Regions from separate parts of the Homo sapiens genome. Here region 1 is linked to region 2. The links come from fine-mapping of genetic effects on gene expression. A gene starts in region 2. The other region holds a variant in brackets. All regions are shown on one strand. Distances are from middle to middle. Region 1 overlaps PSAP (prosaposin). Region 2 holds the start of PSAP (prosaposin).

Region 1 (5,000 bases), 27 kb after region 2:
TTTGTTTAGCAATCTGTTTCTCTCTCCTCAGTGCAAGAACTATATCAGCCAGTATTCTGAAATTGCTATCCAGATGATGATGCACATGGTAGGTGGCACGGAGGCCCCTTGTTAGCATTTTTCTTTGTTTTTCAGGTTTCGTCATTTCTAGGAATTTTGAAAATTATATGGTTTAGTTTCCCTTTTTTACCTTAGAGTGCTGAATTGGGCTAAATCGACCCCTCTGGCTAGGAGACTCTCCACTTGCAATCTCAGTACCTCCCCTGTTACGGGAGAGGCAGGCTGAAGCATCTTGATCCCAGGACTGCCCTGGTGGCTTCCTGGCAATTTGTTTGCCTCTGCCCGTTCAGGCCAGCCATCAGGTTTCTAGGTCTGGCTTTAACCCTGGGATCTGTAGAAGTCAAGTGCTCTCTAACTAAGCCAGGCCTGAGAATGGCTGTGTTGCCACCTGAGTCGGGGGAATACTGCCTCCCGGAGTTTGTCCCGTGCATGGCAGCAGCGTCCGCTGAAGCTGCTGCTTGAGCTGGTAACTCCTGAGCTGGCTTTGGATGCATTCAGGTGGCAGGGGGCATTCCTTCATTAGAATCAAGAATACCCATTCAGGAAATGAGCTCGCTAGTCCACGCAGAGCAGGGCGGCCTGCTCACGTTGGGAACGGGCACTGCCTCCTTAGATCTGATTGGCAGGGCTGAGTGGGTGGGGGGCACCTTTTCCCTGTCTGTCATGCTTTCTGACTACTTGAGATTGACATACCAGCGTTTGAGTTTGTTCTCTGATCCAGGGGTCAGCAAACTGGCCCATCATGTTTTGTACTTAAAGGGTATTTTTTTGGAACACAGCGACGCCTGTTTTGTGCTACAGCAGCACAGTTGAGTAGTTGCAGCCAGATCTTATGGCCAAGGAGCCTGAAAGATTGACTCTCTGACCTGCTGTAACCACTCAAGCAAGCTGAGGAGGAGTAGTTTATTTGGGATTATTACTCACACCCTACCATGTTCTAAAAACAGTTAAAAGGCAGCTTACAGAGACATGCACCTGAAGTAGGTAAAGATAAGCATTGACGGGATTTAATCTCGTGAAGTACTTCCTCATAGCTAACTTAAAATATTTTTCTCATTATAAAAGTTATACTGTGTAGAAATGTGTTGAAAATATGGACAATACTTCCCACACAAAAATCATTTGGAGTTTCAGAATATATCAACGGGTTCATATATACTACCTTGTACTTTGTAGTTTGCATTTTTTGCCTAAAAATATGTTGGCCATTGAATATTCTTGTACAAATGACTAAATGCTTGCAGAATAATCACCTGTGTACATAGAAGAGAATTTACATAATTGGTCCCCGGTGGCCGGATGTATCTAGGTTGTTTTCAGGTTTGCCTTTGGGAAGATGAATATCCTTATAGCCAAATGCATACATATATGCATATCCCTGCCTTTCCCCTTATTATAGAGAACTAAAGCTGGAACTGCTGAATGGAAGCATGAGGCTTTGGATACATTGTTAAATTGGCCTTCCAGGCTGCCATTTGGCCACCTGCAGTAGATTGCCCTAGGATCCCTTACCCCTCAGGGATCCCTTACCCCCCTTACTTGGGCAGCCCTGTGTCTTGTTCTGTGGTGCTGCTGGTCACTAACCTGTGGGAAAGCCTTGTGGGCCCGGGGCCAGTGTGGGCTCCTGAGTATGGAGACCCTTCATCAAGCATTTTCTGGGGCTCTTGCTACACAGTGTTTTGAGTGTGATTTAGTGTGTAAGACCTGGAGATGGTGCACACAGAGCAGGACAGCCCCCAAATGGTCTATCCCTGCAGGGCCAGGAAAGCTTTCAGGGCCCCCTTGTCCGCAAGATAGCAGGAACAAGGTAGGTTGCTAAGATCTGATTGCAAGAGCATTTCCCCTGAACCTCTTGGGACATCCTTACACCTGGTTAACTGCTTGATTGTTGTTTTAATTTTTCTTAACTGTTGTGTCCTTTCCTTTCTCTTATTTTCACCTCCGATTTCCTGTTTTTTTGTTCAACAGCAGGATCAGGTATGTGTCGGGGAATCTGCTTGCAGTAGTGGTCTGCTGCTTCCTCTAGTTACTTTGCTTTTTTTTTTTTTGGGTATGGCATGATTAGCTCTGACAGATACAAGGAATGGTTACGAGAGGCAGGCTCCCTCTCTGTTAATAGGCTGGGGAGGGCTTCTGCATCTCTCCCCTGTAATTCAGCCCTTGAGGTTTTGGGGGTCTCATCTCCCCTTCGGGGTCCAGTAAAATGAAGCCAGCAGAGCCTTGTGCTCTGGTCACAGTCCACATACAGCATACGTACATGCAGGCCACCAGTGTGACAATGGGGAACCATGGGTGGCCCAGGAGGTGCCTCAGCCTCCTTCAACGTAGGCCAGTTAGGAAGTCCAGTGTAGGTCTGGCTTCCCCAGGGCACCTTGTGTCTGTCACAACGCAAGTAGGCATTGCATGTCTTTAGTGCTGTTTTTCATAAACACAGAAATGCTTCTGCTGCATGAGCAAACATTTGCAGACAGCCAGCAGACTGTTCCTGGCTGTTGGATCCAGAGAATTGGAAACAATCTCTTGATTGTGGCTTCTGCCCCTCTGGGTAACAGGGTCCTTTGGGATCTAGAGCCACATCAGATGGCATGCTACAAGAACCAAATGCCCAGTCCATACTTGCTCTGAGCCAGTGTCCTTCGGGGCCGTCCTGAACACTGCCACCTCTGAGCGTTGGCATCCATCTGCTAGGATTAGCATTGGAGCTTTTTTTGAAGGTATTTTGAAGTCTAATGGGAGAGGACTTTGGTTGAAATACCTGAATTTTTACCTAGGCCTCCTCAAGGAGTTGGAACAAAGCTGATCGAGGCAGAAGCAGCCCTATACCTCCTGAATATTGGCGT[C/A]TTTTTTTTTTTTCTAAAAAGCTTGCTGTATCTTCAGCTGCGTTCTTATTATTTATTTATTTATTTATTTATTTTTCATTCTTAAGGTGTGGCAGAGACAGGGTATTTGGGATATACTTTTCAGACTCCCCCGGTCTTATTAATTCTCGAACCTTCTTGATATTAAAACAAGATGAGCCATAGTCATGGTCTAGCTCTTTTCCCTTAACAGGTCCTGTTTTTAGCACTTTTGTTCCTGCTGCTTTAGGGTTTGGTGCTGGAAGGCAAATGCACTCAGGCTCAGAGCTAGTTGCTGGTTGCATTTATTTCCACAATATACAGAGTCTATACACTTGTCTCACTCTTGGCCATCAGAGTGTCATGGTCAGGATGTCTAGACTATCTAGTGCTCTGTGTTTGGTGTCTAAATGGTGAAAGGGGATCAATCTGGAGACCTTGTGGCTTAAAATGATTCATCCATTTGGCGGGTTGGGTTTTCATGTGCACTGTGTGCAGCTTGAACATAGAATGTGGTTTTTTAAAAAGCCAGCATTTCCCCTTAATGCATCATTTTAAATGGTCCTGCCGCTGAAAAATCTGGTGTGGTTTTATTTCTAACACATTTGGCTTTCTGTTAGTTTATGGGCATGGTAGTTCCCCCTCTAGAAAAAAGCATAGCTTAGTTCCTACCTAGAGTGACCTGAAAAGACACATTCTAGAACAGACCAGGTGTCCTTGGAGATGTGGAAGGTGCTGGGGAGTCTCCCTCGTGGTGGCCCTGGATGGAGACTCTGTTTGATGTTCCTTAGGAGCTTTGTGTGGTCTCCTCCCCGAGATGTAACTGGCACATATGCACTGCTTCAGACACGAGCCCTTTAACATGGAAACTGGAATCTGCCCCGTTGTGGGAGGGGGAGAGGGAGGTAGCCTTGACCTGGGCCCAGGGTGCTGTCCAGCTCCCTGTCCTCTGGCTGGATTGGGACTGAGGAGCAGTGGGCGTAGGCTTGCTGCTGACTGGTTGTTCTGTGCTCTCTTCAGCAACCCAAGGAGATCTGTGCGCTGGTTGGGTTCTGTGATGAGGTGAAAGAGATGCCCATGCAGACTCTGGTCCCCGCCAAAGTGGCCTCCAAGAATGTCATCCCTGCCCTGGAACTGGTGGAGCCCATTAAGGTACCTGGTGTCACTTTGTGTCCTGGTCAGGGCTGTGCAATGCCACACTACTCCCTGCTGTGTCACATCACATCTTACGAGTCACTTGTTTCTTTCGGTTCCCTGCCTGGCTCCTAAAGGTCTTTGAGTTTGTGATCACTGGTTTATCCTATCCCCTATACTAATGCAGCCCCCGACCCTGAGTTCTTTTGAAAACATTTTATTTCCTTGGTTGTAAACCCTAATGTTCGTGGGATCATTAGCCTGTGTATTTTCAGCATGCCATTCAAAGGTGACTTTGCAGTGCCTGGCTTCAGCCTCACCTTCTCACATGCACTGTCTGGGTCCTTCCCCATCCTGTGGCCCTGACAGACTGGATGTTCCCAGCACACCCCTCAGAGTGTACGGAAGCCTCACTGGGCCTGCAGCCTGTATACTAAGTACATGTGGGTGTCTATTTTATTTAACTAAAACACCTCACTTGGTGAAGATTAGACTACTTCATCCCATAATAAATTTGTATTTGGCATTTATTATGGGTCAGGCAGCATGTTAGGGGCTGTGGTGAACAGATGATGTCATTGTGCCCGTGGGGCTTACATTCTAGTTCTTCAAGGCCTGGGCTGTGTGATGCCTTAACACGTGGCACATGTACACGCTTCTTGTTCTAGAACATCCCACGGCACTTGACTGCCAGCTGTTGGTCTCTCTCTGCTGTCTCCTCTCTGCATGTGCAGAGTGTGTGACCCAGGGGCCAGGCCGAAGTGTCAGCTGGAATCCAGGAAGCACTGCTTCTTGCCTTCCTCTCCACCGGGTGCTCCTCAGCTCCAGCCTGCTGACCAAAGTGACGGCCAGAGAAAGTGAAGAGTTATAGCTCGCACTCCAACCACATGTGACTACTTAAATTTTAATGAAATACCATGGAGCAAAATTAAAAATTCAGCCCCTTGGCTACACCAGCCACATTGCAGG
Region 2 (5,518 bases):
TTTGAGACCAGCCTGGTCAACATGGTGAAATCCTGTCTCTACCAAAAAATACAAGAAAACTAGCCAGGTGTGGTGGCGTGCACCTGTTATCCCAGCTACTCTGGAGGCTGAGGCAGGAGAATTGCTTGAACCTGGGAGGTAGAAGTGGCAGTGAGCTGAGATCGCACCATTGCACTCCAGCCTGGGTGATAGAGTGAGCCTCCATCTCCAAACAAAAAACAAAACAAAACAAAACAAAACAAAACAAAAAAAACAAGTCCTGGTTCAGGCTCTGTTGTTAACCAGCCCTGAGATGTCAGTAGCTCTATAAGATGAGAGGGGATGATCTGAGGTCTCTGAGCGTCCTTTTGGCTTGGGGTCCTGTAACCTCTGCATGGAGCACTGGGATGCTTTGCTCCTCCATCTGCAAGGAGCTGAAGGATGGGGGATTTGTCCTAGAGCCCCAGCTCCCTTGCTTTTTTTGTTTGTTTTTTTTTTGAGACGGAGTTTCGCTGTTGTTGCCCAGGCTGGAGTGCAGTGGCACGATCTCGGCTCACTGCAAGCTCCGCCTCCCGGGTTCACGCCATTCTCCTGCCTCAGCCTCCCGAGTAGCTGGGACTACAGGCGCCCGCCACATCGTGCGGCTAATTTTTTGTATTTTTAGTAGAGACGGGGTTTCACCCTGTTAGCCAGGATGGTCTCGATCTCCTGACCTCGTGATCTGCCTGCCTCGGCCTCCCAAAGTGCTGGGATTACAGGCGTGAGCCACCGCGCCCGGCTAGCTCCCTTGCTTTTAACCAGTTGTTGTGTGGTCTGCCCCACGCTTCTGCCTGGCCTTGGGAAGCCCAAAGGTGGAGCAGCCACGAAGTCTCCATCTGGCCACTGAGGCCGACCTGTGAGGCGTCCAGTTGAGACCACATCTTGTCCCAACTCACTCAGCTGCCTCACATGGCCCACTGTGGTGCATGGGGCACACTTCCCCATCTGGCTCCCCAGAGGAAGTCAGAGCTGTGGTGGGGGCTGGGGGCACTTAGGGAGATTGCAGGGGAGCAGAACTGAAGGTTCTGAGGCCTTAGTCCCTGGGGTTGTTCTCCAGAGCGGATTGCAGATTGGAGGAAGTTGGAGGAACTGTAGGTTTGCCCTTCCTGGGTCAGGAAACCTGGCTTCGGGCCAGGTTCTATCTCTACCTGTTGTGTGACCTTGGATAAACGTCTTGCCCTCTCCTAGGCTCAATGTCCCTACAGGTAAATGACCTCTAAGTGCCTGCCCTAAGGGGCTAAGATTCCCCTCCTTTCCCTGCCTTGCGGTTGGCAGGTTCTTATCCTTCTGGAGAGGGTCATCATCATTCTCTGTTCAGGTCCTGGCAGGGGCAGCCACAGGCAGAGGGTCTTTGGGTCTTAATTTCTGAAGGCTTCCATGTCACATAAAACGTTGATTACATAAATTTGTTATGCTTTTCTCTTAAGCTGTCTCGTTACAGGAGTGTTGGTTGTGACTCTTATGATCTCTTATGATGGGTGAGGAATGGTATTACATCTTTAACGGTACCACAATGTGAGGCTTAAAAGTTTTTTGTTTTTTTTTTTTTGGTGATGGGAATCTCTCTCGCTCTGTGGTCCAGGCTGCAGTGCAGTAGTGCGATCTTGACTCACGGCAACCTCCACCTCCCGGGTTTAAGCAATTTTCCTGCCTCTGCCTCCTGAAATAGCTGGAACCACAGGCGAGCGCCACCACGCCTGACTAATTTTTGTATTTTTAGTAGAGACAGGGTTTCACCATATTGGCCAGGCTGGTCTTGAACTCCTGACCTCATGATCCGCCCGCCTCGGCCTCCCAAAGTGTTAGGATTACAGGAGTGAGCCAGCATGCCCAGCCCAGACTTGCCTTTGACCAGGTGCCACCACCTGCCCCCACGTGCCCCTGGCCAGGACTGAGCCCTGTACCCTGTTACACGACTACTTATTCTATGTGAAACCCCAAGCTATTCTATGTGAAACCCGCTACTACAATGGGCTAATTTTTTTGTATTTTTTTTTTTGTAGAGATGGGGTTTCACCACGTTGCCCAGGCTAGTCTTGAACCCTCCGCCCGCCTCGGCCTCCCAAGTGTTGGGATTACAGGCGTCAGCCACCGCGGCCGGCCAACAATGTGGAGATTTAAAAGGTATTTTACATATATAATCTCTGACCTATTCAATTAGTAGGGCTTTTCTTTTATGACCTTTCCCTTCCCTTTCTCCAAGTTCTTCCTCACTCCTCCCCATAGCCCTTCCTTTCGCCCCTCCCATTGCCCCCTCCTATTGGCCTCCCCTTCGCGCAGGCGCCCTCAGAGGCGCTGAGTCAGGGCGCTGTTGAGCTCGGGCAGGCCCGGATGGGGCGGGGTTAGCGCCTGCGCTCTGGACGGCTTTGGGGCAGGGCAGATTTATATCTGCGGGGGATCAGCTGACGCTCCGCATTGCAGACTGCGGAGTCAGACGGCGCTATGTACGCCCTCTTCCTCCTGGCCAGCCTCCTGGGCGCGGGTAAGCCCTGGGACCCTCATCCTGGGGAGGAGGTGCCTCGCAGCGTCCATCTGCCCCAGAATGGGCTGTGCCGGGCCTGGCCCCTCTGCTCCCCCTGCCCTAGTTGGCAAGGGGGCGCGCGCACTGCGCAGGCGCGTTCGCTGGCTTTCTCTGGCTTTCTCTGGGCGGCTGGGGGCTGCGGGGGGCGGGCTGCGAAAATGCCCCCGGGAGGACGGCCCAGGCCCTGGGCAGCATCTCCTTCGGGGCTCGAGTGGGTTCCTGCGCGGCTGGGGCCCCGAGGCCTTCCCTCAGGCTGCGCTTCCCACTGTGGGGGTGGGTGAGTCTTGTAGGGTGACCCCTTGGGCAGCTGTGTTGTGCCTGTGCTGGGCGCACGTGATCGAGGTGGGCTGGAGCCCCGTCCCGCAGGACACTTTGGCCGTTGGCTTCAGTTGCCTGTTTGTAAGGGTAGCGAAGCTGCAGGAAGCACATGTGTATCATCTATATTGACGTTTGCATATGTATTTACTCTGGATTCTAGGTGTTGACAAAACGAGTCAAACTCTGTAAAAATATTTTGAGATTTATTCTGAGGCAAATATGAGTGACCATGGCCCGTGACACAGCCCTCAGGAGGTCCTGAGAACATGTGCCTAAGGTGGTTGGGATACAGCTGGGTTTTACATATTTTCGGGAGGCACGAGACATCAATCAAATACATTTAAGAAATACGTTGGTTTGGTTCAGAAGGGCGAAACAACTCAAAGCGGCGGGGGGCTTCCAGGCCATAGGTAAATTTAAACATTTTCTAGTTGATAATTGGTTGAGTTTATCTGAAAACCTAGAATCAATAGAAAGAAAGTATTCAAGTTAAGATAAAGGATTGTGGAGACCAAGTTTTATTGTGCAGAGGAAGCTCTCAGGTAGCCGACTAAGAGAGCGAGCACGTTGTAAAATATTTCTATGGAAATGAAAGGGTGACTGGCTCTTAGTTGATTATCTCCTGGATCTGGAGAGGAAGGAAGGAAAACATAGGGGAAAGGGGATTCTCTATAGAATGTGGATTTTTCCCACAAGAGACTTTGCAGGGCAATTTCAAGGTATGGCAAGGAAATATATTTTGGGGTTAGATATTTTGATTTTTTTTTCCTTGTCTTATAAAATGTTATGCCAGAGTCAGATTGGAAAGTAAGTCACGATATATGGGGTCAAATAAAACCCATCTGATGAGAGTTTATGGTTTGTAGGGTATGATTCCTACACCCCTTAGATAGGAATTTGGGCAAGCTAAAAAAAATCGGAGCTTAATTCTCATAGGTATTGAAGGCGATATAGGGTTTTCTGGTCCAGTTATTTTGCCATGGGGTCCTCATTTCACTTGCTTTGAAATGTCTTGCATCTGGGTGCGGTGGCTTATGCCTGTAATCCCAGCACATTGGGACACCGAGGTGGGAGGATCGCTTGAGCCTAGGAGTTGGAGACCAGCCTGGGCAACATAGCAAGACCCCACCTGTGAAAAAAAGAAAAAGAGAAAAGAAAGTCTTGCACGCTATTGGCCGTTTTTTTTTTGTTTGTTTGTTTTGTTTGTTTGTTTGTTTTTTGAGACGGAGTTTCGCTGTTGTTGCCCAGGCCGGAGTGGTGCAATGGCGTAGTCTCGGCTAACTGCAACCTCCGCCTTCCGGGTTCAAGCCATTCTCCCGCCTCAGCCTCCCAAAGTTCTGGGATTACAGGCGTGAGACACCGCACCCAGCCCCCACCACAATGTCTGTTTTTTAGTAACTATATGTAGTTTAAGGGCTGGCTGCCATTTTTAACCTAGCTACCCAAATTTTAATAAAAAGTAACAAAGTGGATGACAGGGTTGATGCAAAACCGAAGAAATGAGTTAGCTTTCAGCAGCTCTCAAGAATGTATCTTGACCCTATACGAAGCTCTTAAATTTGTTTTACTTGTACACAATGAAAGATGATCTGCTTATAAAAAAATCATTTTGATTTTATACTCAAGCTTATACTGCAGTTATTCCATGGTCTGTATAATAAACTAATGCTGGTCTCTAAATTTTTTATACTGATTCAGGGCAATTTTTTTTCTTTCTTTTTACATTATCCATTGTTCTTGTTGACGTTGAGTCACTCCTCACAAGACCCTTAAGAGTTCTGATTCATTCACATCACCCAAAAGGGACTCAATCGTGTCTCGGGAAATATAAAATCCACCTCTGGTATATATGGGCTTATGGTTAACCACAATATTTAGTTAACCAAGGGACCCTCTTCCGTGAACACTCGGGTAAATGGGAGGTATTGTAATGGCCTTGGTTTAACTTTGCTGTCCTACCTTTAGGATTAGGCCAAAGTCAGTGCTGATAACAGTGTTTGAATGCTCCCTGGCCTTCACAGCTCTGGCCCCTTTGTGATATTGTGAAAATGTTACTCCTAAAATTTCTAGACATGATAATGAGTTTTGTTAGTGAAAGTGCCTGGTGACTGCAGCCATTGTCTGCTGCCCGAGAGGCACTTAGAACTTTCTTCGTGACACTGTCGTAGTACAGAATGCCACCCTGAATCGGGATGGGCTTTGTATTTTGTGTTTCAGTGATGTCCTGGTGGTAGAGACACTTGCTTTTGAGTTACTTTTCTGCCCATCCAGCTGCCCCTCCTTTTTCCCCACCTAAAAGCGAAAGCAAAGCCATGGCACCATGAGAGAATTGGAGAGCATGTAATCTGACCCCTTTGTAAGGAATGAAGACCTGGAGGTGCCCAGAGGTGACTCTCCCAAATCATAGACCATTTACTGGGGATGCCAGGACCAGAACCCAAGACTCCACAGTGCTCGCTTTTTCCATATCCCTCTGTCCACATGGACCTCTTAACTTTTAAAAACTTAGTGTAAGTTACATACGTGGACGATTAAGTAGACAACTTGATGAATTACCACAAAGTGAGCAGCCCCCGAGGTTGGGGAGCAGTGCAGTAGCATCCAGAGGCCCCTGTTCACCCATTCACTGCCCTGTCCCACTTGCCCCGAAGGAAACATTGT

The links. PIP is the estimated chance that this variant, and not a neighbour inherited with it, causes the effect.
Region 1: its variant is the best candidate, but not a certain one, in a credible set for the expression of PSAP in whole blood (TOPMed, PIP 0.85).

Annotation. Positions count from the first base shown.
Region 1 is chr10:71,820,925-71,825,924 of GRCh38, reverse strand. It overlaps PSAP (prosaposin), which reads left to right. Exons shown (of 14, transcript NM_002778.4): 7 at 32-88; 8 at 3,918-4,049. Among named protein-coding and RNA genes, the nearest start is that of PSAP, 28 kb to the left of the region's middle. The variant C/A (reference allele first, on the strand shown) is at 2,901.
Region 2 is chr10:71,848,164-71,853,681 of GRCh38, reverse strand. It overlaps PSAP (prosaposin), which reads left to right and starts at 2,431. Exons shown (of 14, transcript NM_002778.4): 1 at 2,431-2,500. The coding sequence starts at 2,461. RefSeq lists enhancers at 2,220-2,750, 2,751-3,281, 3,673-4,172.